Linked DNA regions of Homo sapiens. The protein of the gene in region 1 purifies or fractionates together with the protein of each later gene. This does not show direct contact. Each region holds a gene or a part of one and is shown on either strand. Other genes may lie near its edges.

Region 1 (3,500 bases):
CAAGGCTGTCAAATTCACTTTGATTTTGGCCTCAGCTGGGCTTCATGCTTTCAGAACAATTTCTCCCACCGCCTTTCACTTGAAGTCCTTGGCAGGGATGCCTCTCCCATTCTGCACGCACAGCTCACTTAATGGGCACAAAGAAATGGGAGAAAGCTCAGGGAAAAAAGAAATAACAACCCGACCCAGTCTAAATCTTGGGAAATCGAACAGGGTCTGCATCTCTTTGAAAACTATACACAGACATTTCTGGTCGAAGTGAAACCATGCTTCTCACAGAGGGTTGGAGACAGCAAATGGAGCCTTAGTCATACACAGTTAGTTTCAAACTTATGTTGCTGCTCACAGGGAGAAATCAATGTACGGTATATTAAAAACAATCACTGCAGCCCTTAAATGATCCAATAGTTTAGCTTTGAATGCATTCAAGCTAATGGGGGCTTTAATGGCTTCTGACAGATCATTCCATTGATCAAGGGGCATGTATGAAATACGCTGCCTACTAAACTCTGTTTTGATTTTGAGAAAAGAAAACTAAACGTCCATGGTAAACATGGCTTGATTGTTCACATGTTCACCGAGATCCCTCTCAGCGTGACCCTGGTTGGGAGCAGAGGAGGGAAGGATAATGGAATCCTATATACCTGGTTTGCTTCTCTCCTGACTCTAATCAAGGCATAATCAACGGGAAACCTCTGTCTGCAGAGTTGGGGGCAGGGGGAAGGAAGGTGACCAGCGGTCCAGTTTTCTGGGTTGGATGAGTTATAAGCCACGGCTTTGGCTGTCTGAGAAACTGATTCATCTCTTGCAAGCCTTGGGGGTTTGAAGGTTAACTGTTCTGGTTCCAACGTGGAAAGCCGAATTCCCTATTTGAAAGGATAATCAGGTTTTTCAGTTGGGGACAGCAGTTTTGCAAAGAAACAAATGAAATCATGCTCCTCCATCCGTGTGTCTGGAGGCTCCAAGATTATTTTATGAAGTGCTGAACGTACCTCTACTCAAGAAAGGCAGTTTCCACAGGGTGCATGGAGTCTGAAAAACCTAAAGAGGCCTTAACATGATTCATTGAGACTATTCTTGTGCAAGAGAGGTTTCTATTTCTCCAAGCCCTGGCAGCCTGCTGTGGCTTTAAGAGTGAGCCATAGACTGTTCCTGTGTCAGACTGGTCTTGCCTGATCAGAAGTAATGAATGTATGTAGAAATTCTTCCATTACCCAGCCAAACTAAATTGGTTTCACAAAACGAATAATAATAATTTCTCTCCCTTGGACTTGAGTAGGACTTTAGCATTTACAAAGCCTTTTTCCAAATGTTATCTCCACCTGCTAGCTGCACAGTCGTGGTTTTACCTGTGTGGATGGGGATGGATCTGGCTTGTGGACCCTCTCTCCTTCTCTCGGAGGCTGGGAAGGGAAGAAGGGTGCCCTTGAAACTGGCACCACGAAGACAGTGATCACCTGTGGTCTTTGTTTAATCTTTAACACCAAGCAAGGCTGTGTGGAGGGCAAGGCGTAGTGGCTCACGCTTGTAATCTCAGCGCTTTGGGAGGCCGATGCAGGCAGATCACTTGAGCCTCGGAGTTTGAAACCAGCCTGTGTAATGTGGTGAAATCCTGTCTCTACAAAAAAATTAGCCGGATGTGGTGGCAAGTGCCTATGATCCCGACTACTTAGGAGGCTGAGGCAGGAGAATCGCTTGAGCCCATGAAGTCGAGGCTGCAGTGAGCCGTGATCTCACCACTGCACTCCAGCCTACGTGACAGGGTGAGACCCTGTCTGAAAAAAAAAAAGAAAAAAAAAAAAGACTGTGTGAAAGAGCTTCATGCCATTATCACTAATGAAGAGGGTCAGAATTACCCGAAGCACACAGGATCTGGAACCATTGAACTTCTCCTAAACTTCCTGTAGAACGGTCTTGACCCTTTTGGCCCCACCTGTAGGGCACCTTGCTGTCCTAGGCCAGCACTTCCCATCTCTCAGCAGGAAACTACCGCATTTACCAGATCAGAAACAAAGGGAATCTCCGCCTGCTAGAAGTGCTTCATTTGTATTGGTGCCATGTTTAGTCAGTGGCTTTTGTAAAATTGATGAATTTTGTCTAAAGGCAAGTGCAGACAGGCAAACAGATCTGTATCTGCTGTTATCCATTTAGCTTGACACACATGTGCAGAGGAACTATTTTACCTCAATTCTTTCAGGATTGATGAAAAGTAAATGCGAGCAAAGTCATGAACTGCATCATTGGAAAAGAATCACTGAATCTAATGCTGGAGGTTAATTAATGCTTCCCTCCCCTTGAAATAGACTGACCCTGGTACTTAGACATTCAGAGTCAATAAACAATTGTTGTACACAGATCATCCATTAGAAGGTGATGGCAAGAATTTTTTTAAGCAAATCCAAAATTGCAATGGGTGACCTACTCCCACTGTAGAAATGAGAGTCCTAAAACATCATTTTTCATAATATCTCATTTATAAAAAGTTCCATGCCATCCGCCTAGCGAAAAATGGAAGCTGTGAAGAGCAAATGGGATAATATATGGGATAGTGACACAATATTCTTCTTGAACAAGCCACAGCTATCTTTAGTCCCTTTAATATTTTGGTCAGGATATCACGGATCATATTTTTCATCATAATAATGTACATGCGTGGCGTGATTTTTAAGTACCAGACATGATATGAATCACTTAACATGGCTGATCGTAGGGGACAGAACAATCCAATGAGCTAGGCATTATCATCATCCCCATTATAGAAACAAAGACTGGAGCGCAGAGGGGTTAAGTGATTTGGCCCAGTCACAAAGCTACAACTGTTACCACAGGAAACTTGGTTAATAATAATAGCTAGTACCTCACTGAAGCCCAGTATATGTCAGGTACTGTGGGAGGCATTTTAAATACGCATTAACTTATTGAACCTTCACAACAACCTTAGGTGATGGATTACTACTATTCTATTTTGTAGATAAGACAACAAAGGTTTGAAGAGGTGGTAGAGTGAGAATCACACACAGAATCAGAACTTAAACTCAGAAAACCTCTTCTGCCACTCAGGAATCCAAAGATTTGGAAAATCTGATGAATGACAGCGGGATAGAAAGAGCAGAGGATGCAGAGAGGCTCAGTTTCCAATGTAGGAGGAGGATTTGGGCCAGAGAGCAGGAAGAACTTGGCTGACAAGGTTCTGAGAGGTGGGAATTAGGACTGTCCTGGGAGCATGGGGCCGATGGGACACAGGACTATGGGAGCAGGGCTGCCTGGGAACCGGGGTGGAAAGCTGTCTGGTCCTTCTAGCCGGGATCTGGGGGGCACTTGTGGTTCTCCTTGTTAATAAGAGAGAATGGAGAACCAGATCTTCAGATACTTTCCTGGAGTTTCCAGGAATCTATCGGGTGTCTCAGGTGAGCGAGAGAACCAGGTGAATGCCTTCTGACAACCCCCAAAACCTGCCTCCCAAACACAGCAGTGGCCCAGGGGTGCCCTTGCTGTCTTGC
Region 2 (3,500 bases), on another chromosome or scaffold:
GCCTTGGTTCAGGGGTCATCTACTCATGCCTGATGGCTGCAGCCACCTCCTCACTGGGCTCCCCTGCCTGCTTCCTGCCTTCTGGCCTTGCTCATCCATTCTCCACACTACTGCCAGAGGTGTCTTTTTAAAATGTGTATCTGACTAGGTTATTCATCCACTGAAAGCCTTCTTGGGTGCCTACAATCAATACAAGCCCTCACCATAGCTCCCTGACTCCCCACCTTCATCTCCCATCATCCCTGCCTTCCTCTTTTTTTTATTTTCTTTTATTTATTTTTTATTTATTTATTTATTTTTTGAGGCAGAGTCTCACTCTGTTGCCCAGGCTGGAATGCAGTGGCGCGATCTTGGCTCACTGCAGTCTCCGCTGCCCAGGTTTAAGTGATTCTCCTTCCTCAGCCTCCCGAGTAGCTGGGATTACAAGGCGCCTGCCACCACGCCCGGCTAATTTTTGTATTTTTAGTAGAGATGTGGTTTCACCATGTTGGCCAGGCTGGCCTCGAACTCCTGACCTCAAGTGATCTGCCCGCCTCGGCCTCCCAAAGTGCTGGGATGACGAGCGTGAGCCACCGCGCCCAGCCATCCCTGCCTTCCTCTTTTTTTTTTTTTTTTTTTTTTTTTTTTTTTTTTTTTTTGAGACGGAGTCTCGCTCTGTCGCCCAGGCCGGACTGCGGACTGCAGTGGCGCAATCTCGGCTCACTGCAAGCTCCGCTTCCCGGGTTCACGCCATTCTCCTGCCTCAGCCTCCCGAGTAGCTGGGACTACAGGCGCCCGCCACCGCGCCCGGCTAATTTTTTGTATTTTTAGTAGAGACGGGGTTTCACCTTGTTAGCCAGGATGGTCTCGATCTCCTGACCTCATGATCCACCCGCCTCGGCCTCCCAAAGTGCTGGGATTACAGGCGTGAGCCACCGCGCCCGGCCCCTGCCTTCCTCTTATGGTCTCTTCACGCCAGCTCCTGTACCTGCCAGGCTATGGATCATCTCTGGCTTTGCTTATGCAGTATCTGTGGCCTGGAAAATTCTTTCCTTGTCCAGCCTCCTTTTGGCCTGGCTAACTCCTACCATTCTACAGAGGCCCAGCTCTGATGTCTCCCCACCTGGAAGGCTCTCCCTGATCTCCATCTCCCCACTACCCTGAGCTGGTTGGCAGCCAGTCCTAGTGTGGACTCCATCACTGTAATTACCACCTCACATAAATTTTCAATTTATGGGTATCTGCTTCCCTAGCCTCTCCCCAGGCTGTGAGTTCTTGAAGGTGGAGACTGTGACTTAGTCGCCTTTTTTCCTTTTCAGCATATACTAGATGCTTGGTAAAAATTGGGTGGATGGATGGATGGATAGATGGGTAAAGTGACCCAAAATAGCAAGGCTATGGGAGAGAGAACTCTGGAACTCTAGAGTTGGGAAACTGGCCACCCACTGGCTGTGTGACATTGGACAAGTCACCGCCCCTCTCTGGGTCCATTTCCCCATTTGTAAAGTCTCTTCTGACTCCAACAGACTGGAATTCTTGAAGATTCCTGGCAGGTACACTGTGAATGAGGGGAGTTTGCTCTTCTGCCCTAAATGTGATGGGCCAGGTTGAGTGTGAAAATCCTGAGGTTCCCCCTTCCCAACAAGAAATTCATCCCCTGCCTGTCTTCTACCCCACATGGTACAGTGATACCCTCCCCCCTGGGGCTTTTACCTCTTTGTGGCTGCAGGTGGCAGGTGCTCTGGCTGAGGCTGGTGTGGGGCTGGAGGAGATCGCAAAGCAGGTGAACGTGGTCGCCAAGGCCATGGGTGAGTGCTGGCCTGGGAGCTGGGGAAGAGAGTGGGGAAGGTTGGACAGCCCTGGGGCGAGGAGCAGGTTCCTGTTGGCTGCCTAGCGGTGCTCCCCAGGTTATTCCCCAGGGGTCTAGGGAGTGTATCCCTGGGGGAGCTCCTGGGGACTGGTGGCCTTGGGTACCATGGCTGAGGTGGAGAGTCTGGCAGCCTTTCTCAGAGAAGAGGGTACCTGTGGGCAGGGCCTCTGAGATGCTGCTGCCACCCTTCCTGATGCCCAGTGCTAAGAGTGGAACAGTCATCCCTTCATGCCTTGTTTCTCATAGGTACCCTGGGGGTGAGCTTATCCTCCTGCAGCGTCCCTGGTTCCAAACCCACCTTCGAGCTCTCAGCCGACGAGGTGGAGCTGGGCCTGGGTAAGCTTGTGGCCATCCATCCCAGCCCTGCCTGCTCCTTGGCCCTGGACTTTGCCCACCTTGCATACCCTTAGAGCCATCAACCTGGTCCTCTCCCCAGGTGGTCTTAGTATTTTTACCTGGTCATTTGAGGCCCAGCCTGGGCCAACCTGCCTGATTTCTACCTGCTTTGCTGTCTATACCCACAGCTTTGGCCATGTGGAGCTCTGTGCACTGCCCACCTCCTAGCCTTTGCCTGCCATTCCCAGGTCCTCCTGTCCCTGCCAGAATACACCCTTCTTTCAACGGCTGTTCAAAGATCACCTGGCTGCAAAGCTTTCTTTCCTCGCCTGTGCTTCCTCCTTAACTATCTCTAGTTAAAGCTATCTCCACCACCAGGCCACAAGCTCCCAGAGAACAGAGATCGTGTTTTTCATTATTCTGTCCATTTCCATCCCCCACTCCCGCCCACTTACTGTGTGAGTCCAGCACTGTGTGAGTCCTTGATAAAAACGATGAGCAAATCCCCAGGCCTTGAGTGGGTCAGCAGTGACCACATCTATCCGCAGGGATCCACGGGGAAGCTGGTGTGCGCCGGATAAAGGTAGGTGGTCCCTCTGGCACAGGCCGCCCTAAGGCCAAGGCCCCCCAGATGCAGCTCATTCCTGGCTCCCTCTGACAGATGGCAACCGCCGATGAGATTGTGAAACTCATGCTCGACCACATGACAAACACCACCAACGCGTCCCATGTGCCTGTGCAGCCCGGTGGGTAGCCTCTCGCCCGCGTCTCCCAACCCCTCCTAAACCTCTGGGGAGGAGACGCCCAGAGGGTCTCACCTGGGGTGTCATGTCTACCCGCAGGCTCCTCAGTTGTGATGATGGTCAACAACCTGGGTGGCCTGTCATTCCTGGAACTGGGCATCATAGCCGACGCTACCGTCCGCTCCCTGGGTGAGCCATGCACTGGGAAGGGGATCCTACAGCCCTTTGGAAAGGGCTGAGGGAGGGTCTTGTGATGGCAGAGAACACGGACTGTGCGTCAGATAAGCCTGAGTTAAATCGTCTCTCTGCCACCTAATTGCCGGATACCTTGAGCCTCTGTTTGTTTTCTTGTCTGCAAATTGGGGGTAATAATAATGGTACCTGCTTTATACCGTTGTTTTGAGGATTAAGTGAGATTAAACATATGTAAGACACTCAACACAGCGCCCAGCACCTGGCACGAACTGAGTAAATGAGACCTGTAATTACTCATCTTCCCCGACGTAGGGGACACCTCCAGGGAACGTGGTCATTTGTGGGGTTATTGAGGGATGCCTGCCAGGAGGAAATCA

The links. The genes of interacting proteins can lie anywhere in the genome.
Region 2: the proteins of FTO (region 1) and TKFC fractionate together in Homo sapiens (co-fractionation; one large-scale study listed by BioGRID). This does not show direct contact.

Annotation. Positions count from the first base shown.
Region 1 is NC_000016.10:54,116,656-54,120,155, reverse strand, and holds part of FTO (alpha-ketoglutarate-dependent dioxygenase FTO), read right to left. Parts: 3' UTR 1-3,500.
Region 2 is NC_000011.10:61,339,728-61,343,227, forward strand, and holds part of TKFC (triokinase/FMN cyclase), read left to right. Parts: intron 1-1,708; coding exon 1,709-1,787; intron 1,788-2,095; coding exon 2,096-2,185; intron 2,186-2,733; coding exon 2,734-2,768; intron 2,769-2,846; coding exon 2,847-2,931; intron 2,932-3,027; coding exon 3,028-3,117; intron 3,118-3,500.